Linked DNA regions of Homo sapiens. The protein of the gene in region 2 interacts with the protein of the main gene of each other region in a biochemical or structural test. Each region holds a gene or a part of one and is shown on either strand. Other genes may lie near its edges. The genes, in order: RADIL, MTMR1, PDZRN4, PARD3B, RAPGEF6, HTRA3 and SHANK1.

Evidence for each region.
Region 1: the proteins of MTMR1 (region 2) and RADIL interact in a test that uses a peptide from one of them, tested with the Homo sapiens proteins (one large-scale study listed by IntAct).
Region 3: the proteins of MTMR1 (region 2) and PDZRN4 interact in a test that uses a peptide from one of them, tested with the Homo sapiens proteins (one large-scale study listed by IntAct).
Region 4: the proteins of MTMR1 (region 2) and PARD3B interact in a test that uses a peptide from one of them, tested with the Homo sapiens proteins (one large-scale study listed by IntAct).
Region 5: the proteins of MTMR1 (region 2) and RAPGEF6 interact in a test that uses a peptide from one of them, tested with the Homo sapiens proteins (one large-scale study listed by IntAct).
Region 6: the proteins of MTMR1 (region 2) and HTRA3 interact in a test that uses a peptide from one of them, tested with the Homo sapiens proteins (one large-scale study listed by IntAct).
Region 7: the proteins of MTMR1 (region 2) and SHANK1 interact in a test that uses a peptide from one of them, tested with the Homo sapiens proteins (one large-scale study listed by IntAct).

The regions. Positions count from the first base shown.
Region 1 is NC_000007.14:4,835,217-4,838,716, forward strand, and holds part of RADIL (ras-associating and dilute domain-containing protein), read right to left. Parts: intron 2,235-3,500; exon of another isoform or gene 2,172-2,234; intron 1,390-2,171; coding exon 1,142-1,389; intron 24-1,141; coding exon 1-23. UniProt on the Homo sapiens protein: Downstream effector of Rap required for cell adhesion and migration of neural crest precursors during development.
Region 2 is NC_000023.11:150,724,396-150,727,895, forward strand, and holds part of MTMR1 (phosphatidylinositol-3-phosphate phosphatase MTMR1), read left to right. Parts: intron 1-2,819; coding exon 2,820-2,914; intron 2,915-3,288; coding exon 3,289-3,396; intron 3,397-3,500. UniProt on the Homo sapiens protein: Lipid phosphatase that specifically dephosphorylates the D-3 position of phosphatidylinositol 3-phosphate, generating phosphatidylinositol. Could also dephosphorylate phosphatidylinositol 3,5-bisphosphate to produce phosphatidylinositol 5-phosphate.
Region 3 is NC_000012.12:41,509,820-41,513,319, reverse strand, and holds part of PDZRN4 (PDZ domain-containing RING finger protein 4), read right to left. Parts: coding exon 3,407-3,500; intron 1-3,406.
Region 4 is NC_000002.12:205,115,475-205,118,974, forward strand, and holds part of PARD3B (partitioning defective 3 homolog B), read left to right. Parts: intron 1-3,446; coding exon 3,447-3,500. UniProt on the Homo sapiens protein: Putative adapter protein involved in asymmetrical cell division and cell polarization processes. May play a role in the formation of epithelial tight junctions.
Region 5 is NC_000005.10:131,429,230-131,432,729, forward strand, and holds part of RAPGEF6 (rap guanine nucleotide exchange factor 6), read right to left. Parts: intron 2,121-3,500; coding exon 1,630-2,120; intron 1-1,629. UniProt on the Homo sapiens protein: Guanine nucleotide exchange factor (GEF) for Rap1A, Rap2A and M-Ras GTPases. Does not interact with cAMP.
Region 6 is NC_000004.12:8,286,754-8,290,253, reverse strand, and holds part of HTRA3 (serine protease HTRA3 isoform 1 precursor), read right to left. Parts: coding exon 3,471-3,500; intron 1-3,470. UniProt on the Homo sapiens protein: Serine protease that cleaves beta-casein/CSN2 as well as several extracellular matrix (ECM) proteoglycans such as decorin/DCN, biglycan/BGN and fibronectin/FN1.
Region 7 is NC_000019.10:50,664,303-50,667,802, reverse strand, and holds part of SHANK1 (SH3 and multiple ankyrin repeat domains protein 1), read left to right. Parts: coding exon 1-1,611; intron 1,612-3,500. UniProt on the Homo sapiens protein: Seems to be an adapter protein in the postsynaptic density (PSD) of excitatory synapses that interconnects receptors of the postsynaptic membrane including NMDA-type and metabotropic glutamate receptors via complexes with GKAP/PSD-95 and Homer, respectively, and the actin-based cytoskeleton.

The DNA.
Region 1 (3,500 bases), on a different chromosome or scaffold from region 2:
TTGAGCACATACACCAGGCTGTCCTGAAACAGAGACTCCGCTCAGGGCAGGCGTAACGCGAGCAGCACACGGGAAAAGCGTCCCGTGTCTAGTCACTGGTTGCTGAAGCAGCGTGGCTGGGATGCTGTCGCCACGGGCTCTCCATGTCCCTGGCCACCCCCACACCAGAACCCCGACGGCTCTCAGGAACCCGCCCCTCGATGTCCGGGCCCATCCCAGAGGAGGTCGGTTTCCCGGAGGAGCACACGAGAGACCCAGGAGACACCCAGCTTTGAGACAGCGACAGGCCAGGTCAGGGCTGGCCGGGAAACAGGCACTGGTTCTACAGACCGGGCCAAGGACTACATAACTTCCCCCAAGTCATCCCCAAAACTGTGTGGGAGCACTGCCGCCTGTGTGGGAGCACCACCCCCAGTGTGGGAGCACTGCCGCCTGTGTGAGAGCACTGCCCCGAGGGAAGATGCCACCTAAAACCTGGGCACAGGAGCCCTATGGCTGTAAAGTGCTCATGGAAATGAGCAGCAAAGGAGCTGGCTGCACAGGAGGGCGGGGGTAGGGTGAGCAGGGGGCGGGGAAAACAGTTGTCTGGCAGGGCAAGTGTCCGGCAAGGTGAGGCGAGGTGGCCCTGCGCCTGGCATTTGCTCGGGGCGACAGCCTGCCTGCTCTGATGGAAGTGGTGAGAAACGGCTCTGGGCAGATAGGGGTGGCATGGGCCTTTGCTCGGTGCCCCTTCAGAGAATGTGGCCACCAATTGGTGACTCAGCAGCCCCCTCGCCAGAAGCAGGAAGCAGACTGGCCCTGGCCAACTGCCCATGCCCTTCCCCAGAGCCAGGCGGGAGACCAAGGCTGGGAAGGCGTGAGGAGTTCTCCCTGAAGGCGCCTGGTGCTGAGGGCACCCACTCTGGGATTGGGGAAGTGAGGAGCCCCCACTGCCGCCCACCGTGGCCTGGACAGGGAAAATGTGGATGACTCCACATGTGCCCCCGCCATCCCACTCCACAGCCTCGGCACAGCCAGAGGGGCTGCAGCCACAGAGCTCGCGGCCGACTGGGCTAAAGGCAGGCGGAGGCCTTGACTTCTGAGTCCCGCCTGCTGTCCCTGCAGTGGCACCGGGCAGTGGGTGTCAGGAGGGGAGGCTCACGTGCTGCTGGCTGTAGCCCTGCAGAAGGAGCAGATGCGGGGACTGGTACAGCGAGTACCGCATGGCGTCGGGGCCGGGCTCCTCGGGGCCCTGGGCGGCAGCGGGCAGGGCGTTCACTGGGCTCAGGCTGGTCTCACTGACTGTGCGGCGCAACCGGGGTGGAGGAGAGCTCCGGGCATCCCCCAGGGCCGGGGTCGGGGTTCCCTTCGCGCGACTCCGCTGCAGCCTCCGGGCCTGGGCGTTTATCCCTGGAACAGAAGCAACACAAGGTGAACAGTTAGAAGTCTCATAGCACCAGGACTGGGCGCGGTGGCTCACCCCTGTAATCCCAGCACTTTGGGAGGCCGAGGTGGGGGGATCGCCTGAGGTCAGGAGCTCGAGACCAGCCTGGCCAACACAGTGAAACCCCATTTCTACTAAAAATACAAAAATGAGTTGGGCGTGGTGGTGCGCATCTGTAATCCCAGCTACTCAGGAGGCTGAGGCACGAGAATGGCTTAAACCCAGGAGGCGGAGGTGGCAGTGAGCTGAGATTGCACCACTGCACTCCAGCCTGGGTGACAAGAGCGAAACTCCATCCCCCGCCAAAAAAAACAGGTAAGTCTAATAGCGCCCATGTCCCGGGTCCTTCTGAGTTCAAATCCCACTAAGCCACGTCTCCTAATGCCGTTACTGTTCTGTCAAAACAGGTCTGGTGGAGACTCAAGGACTCTGCCCTCTAGCCACGCCCCTCGAAAAACCAGACAGTGCCTTGGCACCACCGTGGCACCCACAGAACAGTCTCAGAGCAGGCAGCCTGCCTGTCAAATCCTCAGGCTGAGGGGACCACGCCTCCCCTGCAGCAGCCCAGGGTCACACCGCGGCCTGCCCGACCAGCCAGCACCACGGCCCACAGGCCTCAAACCACAGACGTTTTCCCACGGCAGCCTGGGCCTCTGCAGGGTCACCACGCCGCCTCCAGAGCCCTGCCCCATCCATCTGTGCACCAGGCGAAACTCCCCTGGGGGTGGTGCTCTGACGAGACGAGACGGACTGGTCAGCATCCTGCCCCTACTTTACAAGGAGGAGGTGTCACTGTGCCACATCACCCCAGCCCATGGGGCTGCCGATGGCCTGCTCCTGCAACAGCATCGCTGCCTCCTTCCCAAGGCTGTCTCTGATACCCCCAAGCCAAAGCAGGCACACACACAAACACACGTGTGCATACACATGCCCACAAATACACATGCACCCACACAAAAATGCACACACACATGCACACACATGCACCCAAAAACACACATGCACACACATACACACACGCCAACACACATGCACCCACACACATTAACACATACATGCACACAAACATGCGCACAGTTCAGAGATAACACACACCCTTAGAAGACTTAATATCTCATAAATACAGACACGCTCTCTAAATGCATGCTCTGGGAAAGCCAGCCGGCTGCGATAGATGAAAACCGCTCACCAGTCCCCAGCTGACCCGGCGCTGTCTTTTCTGAGCCCTCTGCTGAGTTCCCTGTACGCAGCCTTTCAGGTTAAGATCCATCCCCATCTGTGGCGGCCTTTCCTCCAACCATTCCCAATAAAACCAAACAAAAGCCGGATGGAGGGAGGCGTCAGCTGGCTGAGGAAGACCCTTACCAGCGCCAGCAGCCCCGCCGTCCTTCCCAAGGCAGCCGGCAGCCTGTGCATCTGCAGCCCGCAGGGGGCCAGGGCGTGAGGGAGGCCGCCCAGCCGCAGTGCGAGGCTGCTGGGCTGGGCTGCTCACCACCCGTGCTCCTGCCGCCTGCAGAACCCGGCCCAGCCTGGCAGGCGGCAGGTGCCCAGCAGGTGGGGCCCAGTTCCCCTACCTCATCCCACCCGCCACTCCCACAAGCGTTACCAGCCCCACAGCTCAGCCTCATTGCACAACTATGGGGCCAGATCCGAAAGAAGAACAAAAACAGCTCCAAATGATGCTCCGGCCCTCAACTTTCTCCCAAATCCAGGGCCAGGTTGTAGGAGGTGACCTCAGAGTGACCTGCTGGAAGTCCCAGGGCCATGGGGCAGGAAGGGTTGCTTCTCCTCCTAGAGTCCCAGGGGCTCCCAGAGGACCTGGCCACAAATGCGGCACGGGATGTCCCAGGCCTGTGTCCCCTGGGGCTGCAGCCCCAGGCAAGTGGCTCGCAGCTGAGTGTACCCTGCTCCTCCAGGCAAGGCTCCACAGCCTCCTGAGGCCCAGGGCTGGGCTCTCTGCAGGTCGGAACCAATGCTGACACGCAGGGGCCACTCCCAGGGTCTCCTTCCTGGTGCTGGGTAGGCCTGCATGTGTGCAGAAGGGCCAGGCTGCCAGCCTCCAACGAGGGGCCGGAGG
Region 2 (3,500 bases):
AAGTATCTATTCTTGTCCTTTGCCCACTTTTTAATGGGGTTGTTTGTGTTTTTTCTTGTAAATTTGTTAAATTCCTTATAGATGCTGGATATTAGACCTTTGTCAGATGCATAGTTTGCAAATATTTTCTCCCATTCTGTAGGCTGTTTACTTTGTTGATAGTTTCTTTTGCTGTGCGGAAGCTCTTTAGTTTCATTAGATTCCATTTGTCAACTTTTGCTTTTATTGTGATTGCTTTTGGCATCTTTATCATGAAATCTTTGCCAGTTCCTATGTCCAGAATGGTACTGCCTAGGTTGTCTTCCAGGGTTTTTACAGATTTGGGTTATACATTTAGGTCTCTAATCCATCTTGAATTGATTTTTGTATATGGTGTAAGGAAGGGATCCAGTTTCAGTCATCTGCATATAGCTAGCTAATTATCCCAGCACCATTTGTTGAATAAGGAATTCTTTCCCTATTGCTTGCTTTTGTTGAAGATCAGAGGGTTGTAGGTGTGCACCCTTATTTCTGGGCGCTCTATTCTGTTCCACTTGTCTATGTGTGTCTGTTTTTGTACCAGTACCATGCTGTTTTGGTTACTGTGGGCCTGTAGTATAGTTTGAAGTCTGGTAACATGATGCCTCCAGCTTTGTTCTTTTTGCTTAGGATTGCCTTGGCTATTCTTTTTGGTTCCATATGAATTTTTAAATAGTTTTTTTCTAGTTCTGGGAATGTCATTGGTAGTTTGATAGGAATGGCATTGAATCTATAAATTGCTTTGGGCAGTATGGCCATTTTCACGATATTGATTGTTCCTATCCATGAGCATGGAATGTGTTTCCATTTGTTTATGTCATCTCTAATTTCTTCGAGCAGTATTTTGTAATTCTCATTGTACAGATCTTTCACCTCCCTGGGTAGCCATATTCCTAGGTATTTTATTCTTTTTGTGGCTATTGTGAATGGGATTGCATTCCTGATTTGGCTGTTGGCCTGGCTGTTGTTAGTGTATAGGAATGCTAGTGATTTTTGTATGCTGATTTTGTATCCTGAAACTTTATCAAAGTTGTTTATCAGCTGAAGGAGCTTTTGGGTCGAGACTATGGGGTTTTTACTTTTTAGAATTCTATTTTATGTCCTGTGATTGCATATTAGCTATAATTGTTTGTTTTGTTATGTAACTAGTTATTTTACATCTTTATGTCTACCTTCAAATGATTGTATGCTGCTTCATGTACAGGATAAGAACCTTATAGTAGTATACTCCCATTTGTCCCCTCCTACCCTTTATGCTGTTGTTGTCATCCATTTTACTTTTACATATGTTATAAACCCCACAATATATTGTTTTTGTTTTTGTTTAAACAGTTATCTTTTAAGGATAATGATAATAATGCCTTAGTCTCCTACAGAAGCACTTGCCAATCCACTCCCTGCCAACTTCTCTGGCCTCATATTCGACTGTCCTCACTGCACCCATTGATCCAGGCATACTAACCTCTAACAACTTATCACTGTGCCCTTCCTCCCTTCCTTCTCTTACTCCCCCTACCCACTTTCCTATTGAGTTAAGTTGATCCTTTTCTGAACTTCCATTGTAATACTTTGTGTCCACATTGTTATTTTAGCTTTTGTCAACCTCTAGTGCAGGGATCCCCAACCCATGGGCCGTGGATCAGCACTGGTCCATGGCCTGTTAGGAACGGGGCTGCACAGCAGGAGGTGAGCAGCGGGCTAGTGAGCATTATCGCCTGAGCTCCGTCTCCTGTCGGATCAGCGGTGGCATTAGATTCTCACAGGAGCGTGAACCCTGTTGTGAATTGCGCATGTGAGGAATCTAGGTTGTATGTTCCTTATGAGGGTCTAATGCCTGATAATCTGAGGTGAAACAGTTTCATCCTGAAACCATCCCCCTACCTCTGCCCTGGTCCATGGAACAGTTGTCTTCCATGAAACCAGTCCCTGGTGCCGAAAAGGTTGGGGACCTCTGCTCTAGTATAATGGCGATTTTTCTGTGTGGTATCTCTCACAGGTCATGGGCTGCTCATGGACAGGAACTTCTTCCAATTATACCCAGAATCCCAGCAATAGAAGGCTCTCAGTACATAAGGAGTATAGAAAAGTTCAATGGAAGTATTCTGAGAATTTGGTTCAATGACGTTAATGCCTTTTGTTGTCTCACTTGGACTCATATATAGCTATGTATATTCTTGTCATTCCAGTGGAATGGCACTTTGGGAAAACATGAAGATGTGGTATCTTTGTGATAGAAGTGAGCTTCTTAACACTAATGGGAATTAAATATGTCACGCACTTAATAGATATTGACAAAAAATTAAAACTGATAAGGGGATAAGGAATTTGAAATAAGTCTTTTTCCATTTCATTGATGTGGTTCTAGGTTTTGTCTTCTGTAAAAAGAGTTTCCTTTGGAGATGCATTAGGAGACAATCTTTAGTTTTCATTAGTTTTAAGTAGCAGTAATTCATGAAACAGTAGCCCAGGGTTTTCAGAGTTTAATTAATGTTTTGAATATGATTAATTTATCACCCAGGGAAAATGTTAACTACCTAGGAAAAATGACAGAATATAACTTCTTATGAGGCCCTTTACTTAAAACCTCATTAAGTAGCAAATCAGAATTTTGTTTTAAAAAATTGAAATTTATTAGAAGACTATGCATCTCTCTATATTGAAAGTCATAATTGATATAATCCTATAAAATACAAAATTCCTGGAAAACTGGAATCACAAATATATATTTGGAAAACTCGTGTTAAGTTTTATGGAAGCACAAGTCTATGGCAGTAGTTGCTACTTTGGCCTTTTTCTTTCAGTGAAAGATGTCATGTATATCTGCCCATTTATGGGAGCAGTGAGTGGAACCCTGACAGTGACGGACTTTAAGCTGTACTTCAAAAATGTCGAGAGGGTGAGTTTTTTAAAGTGTGTTTTATTTTAAAAGAAACACTTTTAAAAGAACACTAAAAGAAGAAAGTAAAAAGTCCCCTGAAATCCCATTACCCTGAGATAACCACAGGTTGGATTTTGAGATGCACACATTTGCAAACAGATGTTTGTATCTTGAAAACAAAGGCTGTTAAAGTACCGCTTAAACCTGGAGGGGAAATTCCATTGTTGTCTCAATATATATTTCACAAGGAATGCTGTCAATCAGACTTCAATTTAGCTGGGACAAAGAGGAAATGCGAAGTAAACAAACATGTTTTGTAACCCAGCAAAGACTTAAAATATGAAAACTGTTGACTGACACTAATAGGCATTGATCTTAATTTTTGAACCTAGGACCCGCATTTTATCCTTGATGTTCCCCTTGGAGTGATCAGCAGAGTGGAGAAGATTGGAGCACAGAGCCATGGAGACAATTCCTGTGGTATAGAGATAGTGTGCAAGGTATAATAGAAACGCCAAGTGAAAACTAAAAGAGGGCAATCAGCTCTGAACTTTTTCTCCCTCAGTCTCTTCATGGTCTTTGGACAGTAGAATAATTTGTACTG
Region 3 (3,500 bases), on a different chromosome or scaffold from region 2:
GGTGTCATTAAATTTTCATAGAGGTTCCTAACACACCAGAGTCACCATAACATGGACACTGAGTATAATATCTCCAAAGAAGCATTTGCTTGTCTGCCGTGGCTCTGAAGGGACCTGTTACAGTCCATCAGTGAAATAATATGTGTGTTAAAAGTCCCTAAATATGTATTTACAAGATAGTCAGATCTGTTTTGGTCTATTGGGTTAATAATCCATGCACTAAGTCTGTATATAAGTACTCACGAGATACACAGATCAGCTTTGGTTCACTGAGTTAATAGTAAGTAGGTCTTTAAAAAGGCACCTAAATAGCCGCATAGTTTGTATTTTAGCAAGTTCAGAAATGCAGTCTATATACTAGAAGCTATTTCTTTTAAAGTGTGGATGCATTGCTCTTGCTCTGGTGGATGCCAAAAGGTGTGCTTCACTCTAACCTGTAATATTTTGCCATTAAAATGTCAGAAGAAAATTGCCATAGCACAAACTATATTGAAGCTCTGAGGCACAGCCCTCCAGGCTGGGGTGGATGCTGTCCTAGATTATGTCATACATACTCCACCCGCTATCACCGCCCAGGTCCAATACCCCACTCCCTCTCAGCTGACTTTGCTTCCTTCCTGTCAGTCTCAGACCAGCAGCTGGAGTAATCCTGTTATGGCTTTCCTATGTTCCAGCAACTTCCCATCTCAGAGTCAAAGCAACTTCCTATATCATGGTCAAAGCCAAAGGCTCCACAAAACACACCCTCCTTTCTCTGAATTCACCCCTTCCACTCTCTCACTGGTCTCTTTGCTACTCCTTGTACACCCCAGCATGCTTCTGCTTCAGGTCCTTTGCCCCTGCCCTTCCTTCTTTCTGAAAATCTCCTTTCACATGGCTAGATCTCTTATATTCTTTAGTTCTCTTATGAGAGAAGTCTTGCATTACCACTCTGTATAAGACAGCAACATCCTGTCCAACACCACTCTTATTATTTTCCATTAGTACTTCTCACCATTGAAAAGAATATGTCTTTACTTTTATGTTTATTGTTGACCTCCCTCTCCTAGAAGCTCCTTCCACTGGGGCAGGAGCTTCCTAATCCCATGCATAGATAACTGCCTGGTACATTTTAAGTCCTCATTAAATATTTATGGTACAAATGAATGAAAGCAGATGAAAAAGGAGTCTTCTTTCTACTTCCTTGATTGCCTGGTTGTGCTCATGTTTAGGTTGAAGAGGAATGCATATCTCTTTCTGAGCTGAAGTCTTCTTGGCCATTAAACCTCACTTTCCTGTGATATTCTCTCAGTGGCACAAAACTGGTACTTCCTTAAGGTGCTCATCCATCCCGCTCCTAGAGCTATAGGGTTATAAGGAAGCTCCTAGAGGAGCTAGGGTCATCTCAGCTGGTCACAGAAACACCAGATCAGTCTGCTTCTAGGTGTAACAGTAAAAGTGCAACACATAGACAGAATTAGCATTTCTAAATCTCTTCACTGAATGAGCCTAATGGTGTCCACCACAGGCTCCAATGATGGCAGTGGACTGACTAGATTTTGCAGTTTGATGCAGCCACAAGGGATGGCATGTGCCACTCTATGTGTGTGTCACATAATGATAACAGACTGAGGAGTACTGGGCAGAACCATTATTCTCTCTTGAATCTGGTAAATTTCTCTGGAGGTATTCTCCCATGCCTCCACTCCCACCTTTAACCATGCATGTTGTTCTCAAATGCATCCTTTCTAATGATTGAAAACTGTCATAGCAACTCCTTCCTTATTTGAATTTCACAGGAACATTCTTTATTTCAATCACTCAGAAAGGAGCCTTTGGCAACGGAATCACAGCTGACAGCAAATTAATGACTATGATGCTGTGATTAGTTGAGATTACAGGCTACAGAGAGCTTGTCTGAGAATTCACCACTGACATCATCCTGATGCTGGCTTCTGCTGGGGATTAATATTGGTCAAAAAAGAGGTTGTGGTTCAGTTACAGTAAGCTCCATAGAAATGTAAGGAAATCTGTCTGTATTGTAATATTTCAATGACATGCTGATTCATTTAAAGGGCTTTTACTGTTAACTTGCTTAGCCTAAACAATCTTCCCCTATGCCCTCCCCGAGCACACTGACTTATTTTAATAAAGCTTTAAGGCATCCAAATAAAAAGTTGAAGTGATCTACATAATTCCAGTCCCCAAACTGAAAGTATTCATTAACCAAAAGGAAAACATAAGAATCTTGAATTATTTGGATAAGTCATTCAATTTTATAATTTATTTTACATGAATAGACAAAGCAATGGATATTGTAATGCATGTCAGTGCTTGAGTAGATTTAGAAAATAAAACTTTTCAATCAACTTAATAAAGAGGAGGTAAAAATTTAACATGAACAACACAAGAATGACAAAAACCATCTACTCAGTTACCAGTTGTCATTTCACATCCTTCTAAATTTTGGCTGCAAAGAAATAATGATTTCTGTAATCCCCAGGAATGACTTTTGTGGGGAGAAGATTTCAAACAAACGTCCATTTGCTTTAGATGAGCTTCCTTATTTGATTTCAGATCCTCCTAAGGGAAGAGATTTCAGGATTTCCTGGTTGTAAAGTGGAAGAGAACACTTTGCTGAACTTGTATGACATCACCTGAAGCATTAAAAGGGCAGGTGACCATGGGTTCTCTGCCTGTTTACCAAAGCTTCTTTACTTCCTCAATCTATTTTATTTTTAAATGTCAGAGTAGTCTGAAACCTTTCAAAGATATTCAGGCTGCAGAAGCAGAGGAAATATTAGGATACATTCTTTAACTTTTGTGAGAGCTTTTAAATAATCAATGGATGGACTTTTCGAATTGTTATATATCACAGTACAGATATTCTGACATTAAACCATGTGAAGAATAAATATAGTTTAACAACAAAGGGCATGAGGCCATCTCTATTTCTAGGAAGTCTGTGAAATGGCTCTTTAGAGTACAGACCAGAGGCACAAAGAGAGTATTGCATTTCCAAAGAATACAATATAATAAAATTTAGTTTATCAATGAAAATTAGAATATTATACAACAAATGAAAATAGTAAACACAATCTTTGTTTTAAATATATTTTTCAAACTCCACTTGGAAATCCACATATATTATAGAACAGATTTTAAAAATGTAGCTGTTGCAATATTATTTATTAAAAAGCAACAAAATGAGAGCAAATTATATTTAAGCTTATACTATAAAAATATTTTCCAATATACTTAAAACACGAGAGCCACATAGCTAAAGCAAATAGTATTTGAAAGATCTTACACTGGATATGTAATAGACAAGACATTTCTCACTGTAATAAATTAATTTCTTTGTTATACAAAACCCCTCAACCGTAACTTCATGAAGAAATGTGAAGTGGTATGAAAATGACCTTACCTCATATTCAAAGTCTTCTGTTCTGTCTGCATCAGCAGGCAAGCTGGAAATATACTCATTGTCCTCATAAAATTCATGCTCCATTGGATGTAGA
Region 4 (3,500 bases), on a different chromosome or scaffold from region 2:
ATTTTGGCTAAAACCAAAAAGCCTGATTCAGAAATGTAGTTTTATTATAAGTTCATGGTTAACTGTTCAGTAACTTGGTGAAATAGTTCTATTATTTATTTTTTGCTATCCACCAGTATTATAGGAAGGAAATTTAATTAAAAAACATTAAAAATGCTATGGAAGTGGAGACATGAGCCAATAAAAGTTAAGGAGTAATGAGTACAGGCTGAAACAGCACGCTTAACTCAACCCATGTGTCTAGATGCAACTGTGTATAGAGCATGTCAGACAAGTGTCTGACTTCATAATGCCATATGGTTTCACTGTGTGAGCACAGGGGCTTCGTTAAGGTCATAGTGGTATACTTTGCTCTTAATTTCCTTCCATTTATTGGTTTGTGCCATTATTTTAAATTAGAATTTACATTTAATTTTTTTACTAAGATTACTGTAATTGGCTTTGCCTCCAATGTATTTTTTTATTTTTTTTTCTTTTAGAAAAATGTTGCCACACCTGTTGTTGAATAAGAAACCTAATCTAAGTTAGATCATCCTAATAAGTAAATTATAGTGGCTGCTCTGCTAGATAAAGCCTCAATGAATTCATTAGATACCATCGCAGAGGGGTGCTGAATGCTGCTTGTATTGAGGGCCATTGGCTTTCCCAGTAAAAACAAAGCAAACATAAAAAAAACACCAAAGTTCTTGCAACTAAAATGCAACTTAATTTTATTCAGATTTTTAAAATCAATGTGGTTTTTGTGAATTAAAAACATGAAATCTAATTCGTTTCAGTACAGATGCATAATATGCCTCAGTTTCATAGGGAAGACAGCTAAACAGGAGAGAGAAGGAGAAGGACTGGATGAAGGCTGATAAAGACTGTGAGAAGAGATGTTCAAACCAAAATTCTAAGCTGGTAGAGTCACTGAGGCTGTGTGACATTGGGAAAAGAACAGGAAGGGGGCAAGGAGAAGATGTTGGTGCCTAAATGATAATTAGAAGAGCAAGAAGAATTGTTACCCCTCTAATTCTGTGAGGCTGTGGATTTCAGCATCCTTTATCACTGTTCATTAATGCAAATTAACTGGTTAGTCTCGGCCTATAACTCCTCGACAGCATTAATCTTTAAATTCTGCGAGTCTTGGTCCCAAATGAGACAGCTACCACAGCCCACCAGTTCAGGGCAAAGAGGATAATGAGGTATTGTTTTCTGAGCCTTCTTGTATTGGTCTGGATGAAATCAAACTGGAGGGAATCTATCCCTTCCACGGAGCAGAGAGGGCAGAAGTGGTTTGTTGCCAGGGACCAAACTAATAAAATCAGTCAGTTTTACATTTTACCAAAATTACCTCTGACACATGGGTTTTACAGTTGGGCTTATTCTGTCAATAAATTTTTCATGGAAAGTTAGATTATTTAGATCAGTGAGGTTCACATAGCATACTCCAGCTGTAATATGCCAGCTAAATTGCAACCCAGTGGCCCGAAAGAATTAATTCATCTCCCAAAATGTGAAATTAAATCCTAGGGAGTAACATTACATGACTGATGATGTACTGAATTAAATTAAAGGAAGACTTGAATGCTTGTTAAAAAAATATCACTTACATAAACACGTTTATAACCACATGTGAGCCTCCTAATGAATCAAGTTATTGTGAATCCACCCTAACAAAAATCCAAAATGTGAACTCTTAGGATGCTGTTTAATTTAGGGAAAAAACCCATAAGTTTTATCTATTATTTTAATGTGTCAAATAGTTTCATTTTTAATACTGTGTTTCAAGATTAAAGTAACACAGAATATGACTAATTTGCTAACCTACTGGAACTAGGAAATGAACCACAAGACCCCACTGCACACTTGTGCCTATGACCCTGAGCCTTCCCTGCAGTAGATGGCATGGCTGTTTGCTGTTCTTTCTCCTGCAGCAGCGTGCTGTATTCATTTAACATTTTGAAGTGAGACCCAAATATCACTGCCATGCCTGTTGAGGTCTTGAGATGATGGGAGCTCATTAAGGGGACAGAGGTTCAACTCCGTGGCCACTCCAAACAGGAGGACTACTTTCTCTAATACTTGCATTGTAGATTCCCCTTTTCTATGGCTGACCCTGTTATTTACACATAAAATGTACTCATGTTTTATTTAGGTTTGAAATTTAATGTGAAGGTATTTTGTAATAGCACACATGGATTTTATACAAAAGAGAGTGACAAAGTCGAAAAGCAAGAGTATTGATAAAGTGCAGATCACAGTTTCTCCAAATGTAGCAGACTCCTCTTGCAGGACATATCTATCTTTCTTACTCTGGACACAGCTAAGCCTTGTCACATCACGAGGAGAAGGGAAATCCCACAAATAAGAAATAATGAAAATATGTATAAGTTCCATTTCTTACGGTTTTTGGTTTAGTTTTGGTTTATATATGTAACAGAATTGTGTATGTATGTGTGTACACACACACACACACACACATACACACACACATATTTTAATTCTAGTGGCTATAGTTTTCTTTCTTCTTTCCTTCTCTTCCAACCCTCCTGATTCTAAGCTACAGCCACAAAAATCCAGAGGCCTCTTTGTATCCTCTCTAATTTAGCCTCTTCTTGGTTGAAATTTTGGACAACTCTTCCCAAAGCCTGCCTTCATCATGTCGCTGCCCTACTCGGAAGCGGGGTCTGCTAGATGCCCCCCTCCAGGTCCATCAGATTAAGTTCATTGGCTGTTTGTTCAAAGCCTTTGTGTGTGGCACTGGTCTCCCATCTAGTTAGCTCTCAAATCTTTGAAGGCTCTAGGCTTGTTAATGTCTTTAGTTTTTGGACTTCAGCTGTCCCCCAAATGTATAGTGAAATTACCTGGTCCTGGTCCTATGACTTTGTCTCATACTCCTCCATCCTGATCACACAGGAAACACCCAACACATACTTGATTTGGTAGCACCAACAAATGGGATCCAGCTTCCTTCTAAACTGAGTAATATGATCTGAGCTTAAATGTTTCTTTACTTCTTAAAATGCAAATTTTTAGAATAGGTAGTAAGACTGCAAAAATGTTACTGTGAATATCCTAATGCTCTCCCACTGCTAAACATCACGTTGCCACGTTGGCACTAACTCAGACTTACTATAGTCAGGTGTGATGCCCTTCTCCAAACCACAAGTCTTTGGTGTCAACTCCAGTAAACTAGCCTTTCAATAAGTTTACTGCAAGCATGAGAAATGAAGTCGCAGATTGATGTTGGTACTTATGCATATTTATCTAGAAGGGCTTTTTCTCTTGTAGTCAGTTTTGGCTTTTTTTGGATTAGGGATTAAAATAACAAACAGTTGCCTGAATATAAAGTAAAATTTCTTTTGTAAATAGAAATCAATATGTATTTCTGAATAGTTGCAAGTGGAGAAATAATTAGCATTTATTATTCAGTAATTATATTTCAATCTAAATTTTGCATTTAGGATTCTAGGACTCTTCATCCGAGGCATTGAAGACAACAGCAGGTCCAAGCGGGA
Region 5 (3,500 bases), on a different chromosome or scaffold from region 2:
TAAGCAATGAAAATGTTAATGAAAAAGAAATGGAAAAAAAAAGAAACCACCCCACAAACTTATTACAATGACAAAATACAACTTAAAAATAGACAAAATGAATAAACTTGAATGATGGCAGATCAAAAACATTTTTTAAAAGTTTAATAAACAAACCTCTTTTTAAAATACATAAACAACTATATTAAGTCCTGTAAACATTAAATAGAACGAGAGAGTTGAAGGAGATGACACTGATGACAAGCTTCCTTCTGCAATTCAGCCCCCATATCACAGAAGTACATGACAACTCCTGAAGTCACACCAGCCCTAAAGATATCAGAAACATTTAAAAGTTCACCCTACACACCGATTCTCTGTAAACTGGGAGACTTTACATAGAAATGACATTTGGGCCATCTGTTTAAGGGCTGTTTCACCTTCTCTCTGAGACATGAACCAATGTTTTCTGGCACTCCTGGGCAGATTAGTTCTCAGTCCTAGCATATAAACTTTAACTTTGCTGGTACGGAGGAACTAATTCCTTCAAGAACTTTACTTCTGGCCAGGTGCGGTGGTTCACGCCTGTAATCCCAGCACTTTGGAGGCCGAAGTGGGTGGATCACCTGAGGTGAGAAGTTTGAGACCAGCCTGGCCAACATGAAGCCCCATCTCTACTAAAAATAAAAAAATTAGCTGGGCATGGTGGCAGGCACCTGTAATCCCAGCTACTTGGGAGGCTGAGAGAGGAGAATTGCTTGAACCTGGCAGGCGAAGGTTGCAGTGAGCCGAGGTCATGCCACTGCACTCCAGCCTGGGCAATACAGCAAGAGTCCATCTCAAAAAAAAAAAAAAAAGTTGGAAAAAAATGAATGAGCTAAAAACCCAACCTATAATGCAATTTGACAAGTAACTATAAAATCAGCACATTTCACCTTCACATTTTTAGTAGTTAAATGCGACACCATGACTGTTGCATAAATTTAACAGTTGATTATGATATTAATTCAAAGTAGAGTCATTCCATATAAGTAGAAAAGCAGTTTTATATCCACGTATTTATATAGTTTAGGAAAGAAATTTTTAAAAAGTATTTGATGGCCAAATACTAAAAAAAAAAGTTTACTAAGAAAGCTTGGAATGGAATTCACAAACAGGAGTTGGCACACTCATGATGTACACCAAGAGAGTATACTGAAAAATGTTCTGGACTTCCTGATTGCATTTTCTCTCACTGTTACGACCTAAAATCAATAGCAGATTCAATGTTTCTACCACGTATGCATACCAATTGTGGTCCAAACAATTTATGAGGTGATAAAGAGAATAATCCCTTTACTACTATTGCACACTAATGCGATGATATTCCTCAATAAAACCAAAAAGAACTTAAAAACAAAAGACAAACAAACTTGTCCCTCTAATTAAATACCTTCACATCAGACTTTTCATTTTAATGGGGTTGAATAGCTGCTCCAAAGTCTTTGAGAAACCATGAATTTTTGGGAAATAACTTGTTTGTTTGTGAAGGAAAGAAAGGTTGTTAGAGAATGAATTTTTGCGACGATAAAATCCAGGGCCAAGATATCCCAATGCCATTTTTTGACTACTTAATCTCTAAATGCCACAGACAACAAAAACACAACTTACCAATCAAGCCCTTTTCTGTACTTGAAGTGACAGTTTTATAAACTGGGTCAGTGGCATCCTTGGGGTCCAAGCCTTCAGATGACTCAGCTGGGGTGCTCTCCAATACTCTCTGTTTAACTGTCCCATAGTTTGGTTCATACGTGTCAGACAGAGAACTGGAGGAGGTCCAACTCTTTCTCTCTAGGCTTCCTTTACACTGCCCACAAGTTCTAGAGCAGCTTTTAGAACAGGAATAGGGCTCAGAGTCAGTGGGTTCAACTTCAGCAATGGGGTCATCCAAATGGGTATGTCTGTAAGAGTTCAAAAAATCCCAGCTTTTTGGGTTTGGAAGGCTTTGGAAGTTGTCATGGGAGCTGCTTGAACACGAAGTCCAACTTCCACGACCACTGTCAGCTGCTTCTATAATGATATGCTCTTGAGAAATCTCTTCATTGCTCACAGACGATGAGACAGCTAAACACTTGATTAGAGATGGCTTCAAGAGTGTCCACCTAAAATTGGAGATAACGTACAATTAGAAGGCTTGCCAGAAAAACTATCTTCTCTCTGTTTCAAGTTATTATTGCCTGTGAGAAACTACAGAGCACGTACCACAAGTGTTCATGCCAAATAACATCGTGAGGAAAACAATATTATCATCATTCATCACTATATTCCTTGTAAGTATTTAGTTAACACTCAGAAGACACAGTAAAGAAACTCTAATGCTTAGCAAAATTTCCTTAGAATTTTTCTTTTTAAATTTTAAAATGTTAGATATTTTTTTTTTTTTCGAGACAGGGTGTCACTCTGTTGCCCAGACCAGAGTGCAGTGGTTATTTACAGGCACGATCATGATGCACTGCAGCTTTTAACTCCTGGGCTCAAGTGATCCTCCCGCCTCAGCCTCCCCAGCAGCTGGGATGGACCAGAGGTATGCCTGGCAAGTATTTTTCTTGAACTGATTTTAAATGAAAATGTAAAGATGAGAGTTGAAATGAATAAGGTTAAGTATACATATTCATTTTTGGTCATCACAATATTAGACTACTGCGTCCATGCATACAGAATTAAGAGTTCCCAACTTGAAGAATCATGTTTTATTTTTCAACGTACCTCTGAGGTTAGCCCAGTACAGTGCCAAGTAAACAGCAACTTCCCCAATTACCCATGAAATGAATAATTTATAGCAGGGGTCCCCAAACTAAAGCTCATGGGCCAAATTTAGCCAACAGCCTATTTTTGTATGGTCTGGAGCAAAGAATAGTTCTGTTTTTTAACCTTTTAAAAGGTTAAAAAAGAAAAGAAAACAAAACCAAACCAGAAGAATTTGTGACAGAGACTATATGTAGATTGCAGAGGCGAAAATATTTACTACCCAGCCCTTCACAAAAAAAAGTTTGTAAACCCCTCATTTACAGTATAGTGCAGGGGGTAGCAAACTACAGCCCAGGGCCAAATCTGGTGGTCTCTTTGCTCGTTTTTGTAAATAAAGTTTTGGCTGGGCGTGGTGGCTCACGCCTGTAATCCCAGCACTTTGGGAGGCCGAGGCGGGCGGATCACGAGGTCAGGAGATCGAGACCATCCTGGCTAACATGGTGAAACCCTGTCTCTACTAAAAATACAAAAAATTAGCCGGGCGTGGTGGTGGGCGCCTGTAGTCCCAGCTACTCGGGAGGCTGAGGCAGGAGAACAGCGTGAACCCAGGAGGCGGAGCTTGCAGTGAGCCGAGATCGCGCCAGTGCACTCCAGCCTGGGCAACAAGAGTGACACTCTGTCTCACAGAGCGAGACTCCGCCTTAAAAAAAAAAAAAAGTTTTACTGGGACACAGTCATGCCATTTGTTTATGTGTTGTCTATGGCTATTCTGGTGTAATAGCAGAGTAGTTGTG
Region 6 (3,500 bases), on a different chromosome or scaffold from region 2:
CGACGTGGAGCCCCGCACAGGATTACGGGAGCCCTTGGTGGGCGGGCGCTGGTGTGGGAAAGACTCAGGCCGCTCCTCTATTCTCTGTGCTCAAGAAGCTTCAGTCAATGGCAGAGAGAATGCCAGGTGGCGGAACCAGGCCTGCACATTGGAAGGTGAGGGCCCGGAGAGATGACATTTTCCATTGCTGACCGGCCGAAGAGGCAGAAATAACGTCTGAAATCTCTGGGAGGCCGTGAACTGAGGAGGGTCAGCCCGTCCTCCCTGCACCCAAGGAGGGTGCACAGGTGAGGCCGTGAACTGGGGAGGGTCAGCCCATCCTCCCTGCACCCAAGGAGGGCGCACAGGTGAGGCCATGAGCTGGGGAGGGTCAGCCCATCCTCCCTGCACCCAAGGAGGGCGCACAGGTGAGGCCATGAGCTGGGGAGGGTCAGTCATCCTCCCTGCACCCAAGGAGGGTGCACAGGTGAGGCCGTGAGCTGGGGAGGGTCAGCCATCCTCCCTGCACCCAAGGAGGGGGCACAGGTGAGGGTCAGGAGCCTTTCCCATGGCTCGATTTAATGCCTAGGGGCTAGGAGGGCGTTTCCCACCTCAGCTCATGGCCATGGGTGCTGACCAGGGCCTGCAGGACATGAATCACACTAGCTCTGCTGGCACCCATTTGCCACAGGTGGCTGGTGGGGCGTCCTGCTCAGGCCCACCTGGATACCACCCCACCAGTCCTGCCAGCATTCTGCCACAGCCGCCGGAAGGGGAGACAGACCTGCCCCTAGTCTCGCTCTCCTCTTCCCACAGGGGTCCTCGAGCGGGGGTTGCAAACTGGCCCAAGGCCCAAACGCTGTCCATTGCCTGTTTTGTGAATCAAGCTTCACTGGAACGCAGCCACACCCACCTGTGCAGCCTAAGGCTGCATTTTTGCCACAGCAGAGATGCGTGGTTGTGACAGAGACCACAGGGCTTGCAAAGATAAAATATTTACCATTTGGCTTCATGGAAAATTTGTTGGCTGGGCACCATGGCTCACACCTGTAATCCCAACACTTTGGGAGGCCGAGGCAGGAGGATTGCTTGAGCCCACGAGTTCTAGACCAGCCTGGGCAATACAGCGAGACCCTATCTCTACCAAAAATTTAAAAATTAGCCAGGTATGGTGGTGCATGCCTGTAGTCCTAGCTATATGGAAGGCCAAGGTGGGAAGATCCCTTAAGCCCAGGAGTTTGACGCTGCAGTGAGCTGTGATTGTGCCACTGCACTCCAGCCTGGGCAACAGAGCGAGACCCTGAAAAAAAAAAAAAGAGAGAGAGAGGGGGAGGAAGGGAGGAAGGAAGGAAGGAAGGAAGGAAGGAAGGAAGGACGGACGGAAGGAAGGAAGGAAAATTTGGGGGTGGGGTGCAGTGGCTCATTCCTGTAATCCTAGCACTTTGGGAGGCCAAGGCAGGGGATCACCTGAGGTCAGGAGTTCAAGACCAGCCTGGCCAACATGGTGAAACCCATCTCTACTAAAAATACAAAAATTAGCTGAGGGTGGTGGCATGCACCTATAGTCACAGCTACTTGGGAGACTGAGACAGGGGAATTACTTGAACCTGGGAGGTGGAGGTTGCAGTGAGCCGAGATCCTGCTACTGCACTCCAGCCTGGGTGACAGAGCAAGAACCCGTCTCAAAAAAAAAAAAAAAAGGCTAGGCACGGTGGTTCACGCCTGTAATCCCGGTACTTTGGGAGGCCAAGGCAGGTGGATCACCTGTGGTTGGGAGTTCAAGACCAGCCTGACCAACATGGAGAAACCCCGTCTCTACTAAAAATACAAAAAAATTGGCCAGTGTGGTGGCACATGCCTGTGATCCTAGCTACTCGGGGGGCTGAGGCAGGAGAATTGCTTGAACCCGGGAGGCGGAGGTTGTGGTGAGCCGAGATGACGCCATTGCACTCCAGCCTGGGCAACAAGGGCAAAACCCCATTTCAAAAAAAAGAAAAGAAAATTTGCCAACTCCTGTCCGTGAGCACACCCCTCAGTGGGTTTCCTTAACTTTAAAATGGAGGTGATGCCCCCAGACTCAATCGCGACCGTGAAAAGTCTGAAAAGCAGGGAAGGGTCCCCATTAGGGGAACTCCTTGGAACCATTAAATCTCCTCTCCCTTGATGGGGCAAGAGGAAACCCCCTTGCAAAAGATTTCATCACAAATGCTGTAAACGTTCATTCAGAAAGAGAGGAAGCCAAATTCAAACCAGCCAAGGTGAACTTCCCAGTCCAAGGGAAGCTCCGGGTCCAACGCTGGTGTGAGACATGGGACTCAGTGACCTCATGGCATGGGGAGCTGCAAGTAACTCAACTGTGGTCCCCAGGGTCACATAAGCATGGCATTGGGCAAGACAAGAACAAGCTGGAGGGAGGCCGGGGTCCTAGCTGAGCGGGCCAGCCCTGCTCCAGTGCGCTGTGATCTTGGACGAGTTACCTAACTTCCAAGCCTCAGTTGCCCCGTCTGAAATCCCAAGATAATGAGGTCCCTGATATGGTTTGGCTCTGTGTCGCCACCCAAATCTCATGTCAAATTGTAATCCCCATGTGTTGGGGGACGGGCCTGGTGGGAGGTGATGGGATCATGGGGGCAGACTTCCCCCATGCTGTTCTCATGGTGGTGAGTTCTCACGAGATCTGATGGTTTTAAAATGTGTGGCATGTCCCACTTCACTCTCTCTCTCTCCGGCTCTGCCATGAGAAGATGTCCCTGCTTCCCCTTTGCCTTCCGTCATGATTGTATGTCTCCTGAGGCCTCCTGGTCATGCTTCCTGTACAGCCTACAGAACTCTGAGTCAACGAACCCTCTTTTCTTCATAAATGACCCAGTCTCAGGTAGTTCTTTATAGCAGTGTGAAAACAGACTCATACAGGCCCTTTCCTCCCAGGCCTGTGGTGAGAATTAGAGGAGTGCAGTCAGCGCCTGGCTGAGAGCAGGCCTTCCAGAAACAGCCGGTGGAGGAAGAAGAGGATTCTGGGGGCCTCAGTGCAGGCCTCTTCTGGGTCAGCTGGTGGGAGGTACAGACGTGAAGGTGGAGGGATGGGGTCCCTGTCCCAAGTGTTCCCCACGGCAGCCCCCTGGCCTCCACGCCCAAACCCAGATGCCATCCCATGGGGCAGGTGCATCCCCAGTAGTGGGCCCAGGTAAGACAGTGAAGAGCCTCCGTGGGGTGTGATATGGGACCACAGCCCACCCACTGTGGGCCACATGCTTCCTGGCTCTGCCCTGCACCTAGCGGCTCAGGGAGCGCAGGACAAGGAGTCCAAAGACCTGGGTTCTAGGTCTTTTCCAAGCCGTGACCCTGGGCCAGCTGCCAGTCCTCCCTGGGCCCAGTTTCCTCCCCCTGGCTGATGGAAGGTGGGGCTAGCTTGCCTCTGGGTTCCGGCGTCTGGGAAGAGGCCACCATGCCCAGCCCCAGGTGCTTCCGCCCCTCCACCCACGCCCACCCACCTTGGGATGGATCTTGATGGTGGCAATGTC
Region 7 (3,500 bases), on a different chromosome or scaffold from region 2:
GGCCCCGCCGCCCACCCCGCACCACCACTCGCCCCACGCCCACCACGAGCCAGTGCTGCGTCTCTGGGGGGCCTCCCCGCCGGACCCTGCGCGCCGGGAGCTGGGGTACAGGGCCGGGCTGGGCAGCCAGGAGAAGTCCCTTCCCGCCAGCCCGCCCGCCGCCCGGCGTTCCCTGCTACACCGCCTGCCGCCCACCGCTCCCGGGGTGGGGCCCCTCCTGCTGCAGCTGGGGACGGAGCCCCCGGCCCCGCACCCCGGAGTAAGCAAGCCCTGGAGGTCCGCAGCCCCCGAAGAACCCGAGCGGCTGCCGCTGCACGTGCGGTTCCTTGAAAACTGCCAGCCCCGGGCCCCTGTGACGAGCGGAAGGGGTCCCCCCTCGGAGGACGGGCCGGGGGTCCCGCCGCCCAGCCCACGCCGGTCCGTGCCCCCCTCCCCGACCTCCCCGAGGGCCAGCGAAGAGAACGGGCTGCCCCTGCTGGTCCTGCCGCCTCCCGCCCCCTCGGTGGATGTGGAAGATGGCGAATTCCTTTTCGTGGAACCGCTGCCTCCGCCTCTGGAATTCTCCAACAGCTTCGAAAAGCCAGAGTCGCCCCTCACGCCTGGGCCTCCCCACCCGCTGCCCGACACACCTGCCCCTGCCACCCCGTTACCCCCTGTGCCACCCCCGGCTGTGGCCGCAGCCCCTCCCACCCTGGACTCCACCGCATCCAGCCTGACATCCTATGACAGCGAGGTGGCCACCCTGACCCAGGGGGCCTCCGCCGCTCCTGGGGACCCCCATCCACCAGGCCCGCCTGCCCCAGCAGCACCGGCTCCCGCTGCCCCACAGCCTGGCCCGGACCCTCCGCCTGGCACGGATTCTGGCATCGAGGAGGTGGACAGTCGGAGCAGCAGTGACCACCCACTGGAGACCATCAGCAGCGCCTCCACGCTGAGCAGCCTATCTGCCGAAGGTGGTGGCAGCGCAGGGGGTGGGGGCGGGGCTGGGGCCGGTGTGGCCAGTGGGCCGGAGCTTCTGGACACCTATGTGGCCTACCTGGACGGCCAGGCCTTTGGGGGCAGCAGTACTCCCGGCCCGCCATACCCTCCTCAGCTCATGACTCCCTCTAAGCTCCGGGGCCGGGCGCTAGGAGCCAGCGGAGGCCTGCGGCCTGGCCCCAGCGGGGGACTCCGAGACCCTGTTACCCCCACCAGCCCCACCGTCTCGGTGACAGGGGCTGGAACCGATGGGCTGCTGGCCCTGCGTGCTTGTTCAGGACCCCCCACGGCAGGCGTGGCGGGGGGTCCGGTGGCTGTAGAGCCAGAAGTCCCACCGGTGCCCTTGCCGACGGCCTCCTCTCTGCCCCGGAAGCTGCTGCCCTGGGAGGAGGGCCCGGGCCCACCGCCACCACCTCTGCCCGGGCCCTTGGCCCAGCCTCAGGCCTCAGCCTTGGCCACAGTAAAAGCCAGCATCATCAGTGAACTCAGCTCCAAGCTTCAGCAGTTTGGGGGCTCCTCGGCAGCTGGCGGCGCTCTGCCCTGGGCCCGAGGAGGCAGTGGGGGAGGCGGAGACAGCCACCACGGGGGAGCCAGCTATGTCCCCGAGAGGACCTCCTCCCTGCAGCGGCAGAGGTAAGCGGGGGCTGGTGGCCAACAAGGGAGGCCAGAGGTGTTGATGGCATGGCTGTGTCCCTTTAGGGTCTCAGGGTGGCAGAAAGGAAACAGAAACCAGGTTGGCAGGAGTTTGCTGTCACAGAAGCATGCTTTCACAAATATTTTCTTTTTCTTTTTTTTTTTTTCTTTTCTTTTCTTGAGAGGGAGTTTCACTCTTGTTGCCCAGGCTGGAGTGCAATGGCGTGATCTCGGCTCACCACAACCTCTGCCTCCCGGGTTCAAGCGATTCTCCTGCCTCAGCCTCCCATGCCACCACACCCAGCTAATTTTGTATTTTTAGTAGAGATGGGGTTTCTCCATGTTGGTCAGGCTGGTCTCGAACTCCCAACCTCAGGTGATCCATCCGCCTTGGCCTCCCAAAGTGCTGGGATTACAGGCATGAGCCAACATGCCTGGCTTTTTTTTTTTTTTTAGAAACAGGGTCTCACTCTGTCACCCGGCTGGAGTGCAGTGGTGTAATCATAGCTCACTTGCAGCCTCAAACTCCTGGGCTCAAGCAATCCTCTGGGACTATAGGTGCACGCCACTATGCCTGGCCAATTTTTCTTTTCTTCTTCTTTTTTTTTTTTTTTTTTTTTTTTTTGAGACAGAGTCTCACTCTATTGCCCAGGCTGGAGTGCAGTGGTACAATCTCAGCTCACTGCAACTTCTGCCTCCCAGGTTCAAACGATTCTCCAGCCTCAGCCTCCTGAGTAGCTGCGATTACAGGTGCCCGCCACCATGCCCGGCAAATTTTTGTATTTTTAGTAGAGATGAGGGGTTTTGCCACGTGGGCCAGGCTGGTCTTGAACTCCTGACCTAAGGTGATTCATCCCACCTCGGTCTCCCAAAGTGCTGAGATTCCACACATGAGCCAGCATGCCTGGCCCTGGCCATTTTTTCTTTAACTTTTTGTAGAGACAAGCTACGTTGACCAGGCTAGTTTCAAACTCCTGGGCTTAAGTGATCCTCCTGCCTTGACCTCCCAAAGTGTGATTACAGGTGTAAGCCACTGGGTCCAGCCTTTAAATTTCCATTTATTTCAGTAGCTTCTGTTGTCTCTGCCCATCACCATCACAACCTACATCCCATGATGAACAAAAAGTTATTAACAGGCTGGGCGTGGTGGTTCACGCCTGTAATCCCAGCACTTTGGGAGGCTGAGGCGGGTGGATCATGAGGTCAGAAGATCGAGACCATCCTGGCTAACACGGTGAAACCCCATCTCTACTAAAAAAAATACAAAAAATTAGCCGGTCATGGTGGTGGGCACCTGTAGTCCTAGCTCCTCAGTAGGCTGAGGCAGGAGAATAACTTGAACCCGGGAGGCCGAGGTTGCAGTGAGCCAAGATTGCACCACTGTGCTCCAGCCTGGGTGACAGAGTGAGACTCCGTCTCAAAAAAAAAAAGTTATTAACAAAGGAGACTGGAGTGAGACCTGCTTATGTTTGTTTCCTTGGTGAGCTGCCACTTCTTTCTGACAGTCCCTGAAATCTGTGAGTCCCTTGAAGCCAGTGTGGTTCAAGACAGGATGCAGTTATAGGTGTGGTTCTAGAGCCCACCTTCTCAGCTTCCAGTCCCAACCCTGCACTTTCTACCTGGGTGATCTTAGGCAAATGAATCCACCTCTCTGTAGAAGTGGAATGGCCTAGTGCCAGCCCAAAGAGTTTTTGAGAGGATTTAGTGTGTGCCATTGTTGTAACATGGGATGGGGGAAGAGGGGGCCTCGAACAAGAGCCCAGCAACTTCTACGTGGGGAAATACGGGATGATGCAGATGCTTCCCAGAGCAGCCAGTCAGCTGCATCGTCGCAGAATTCGAGCCCATTCAAGACCTTCTAGTCCTAGAGAAAGTAGAGTTACATTTCT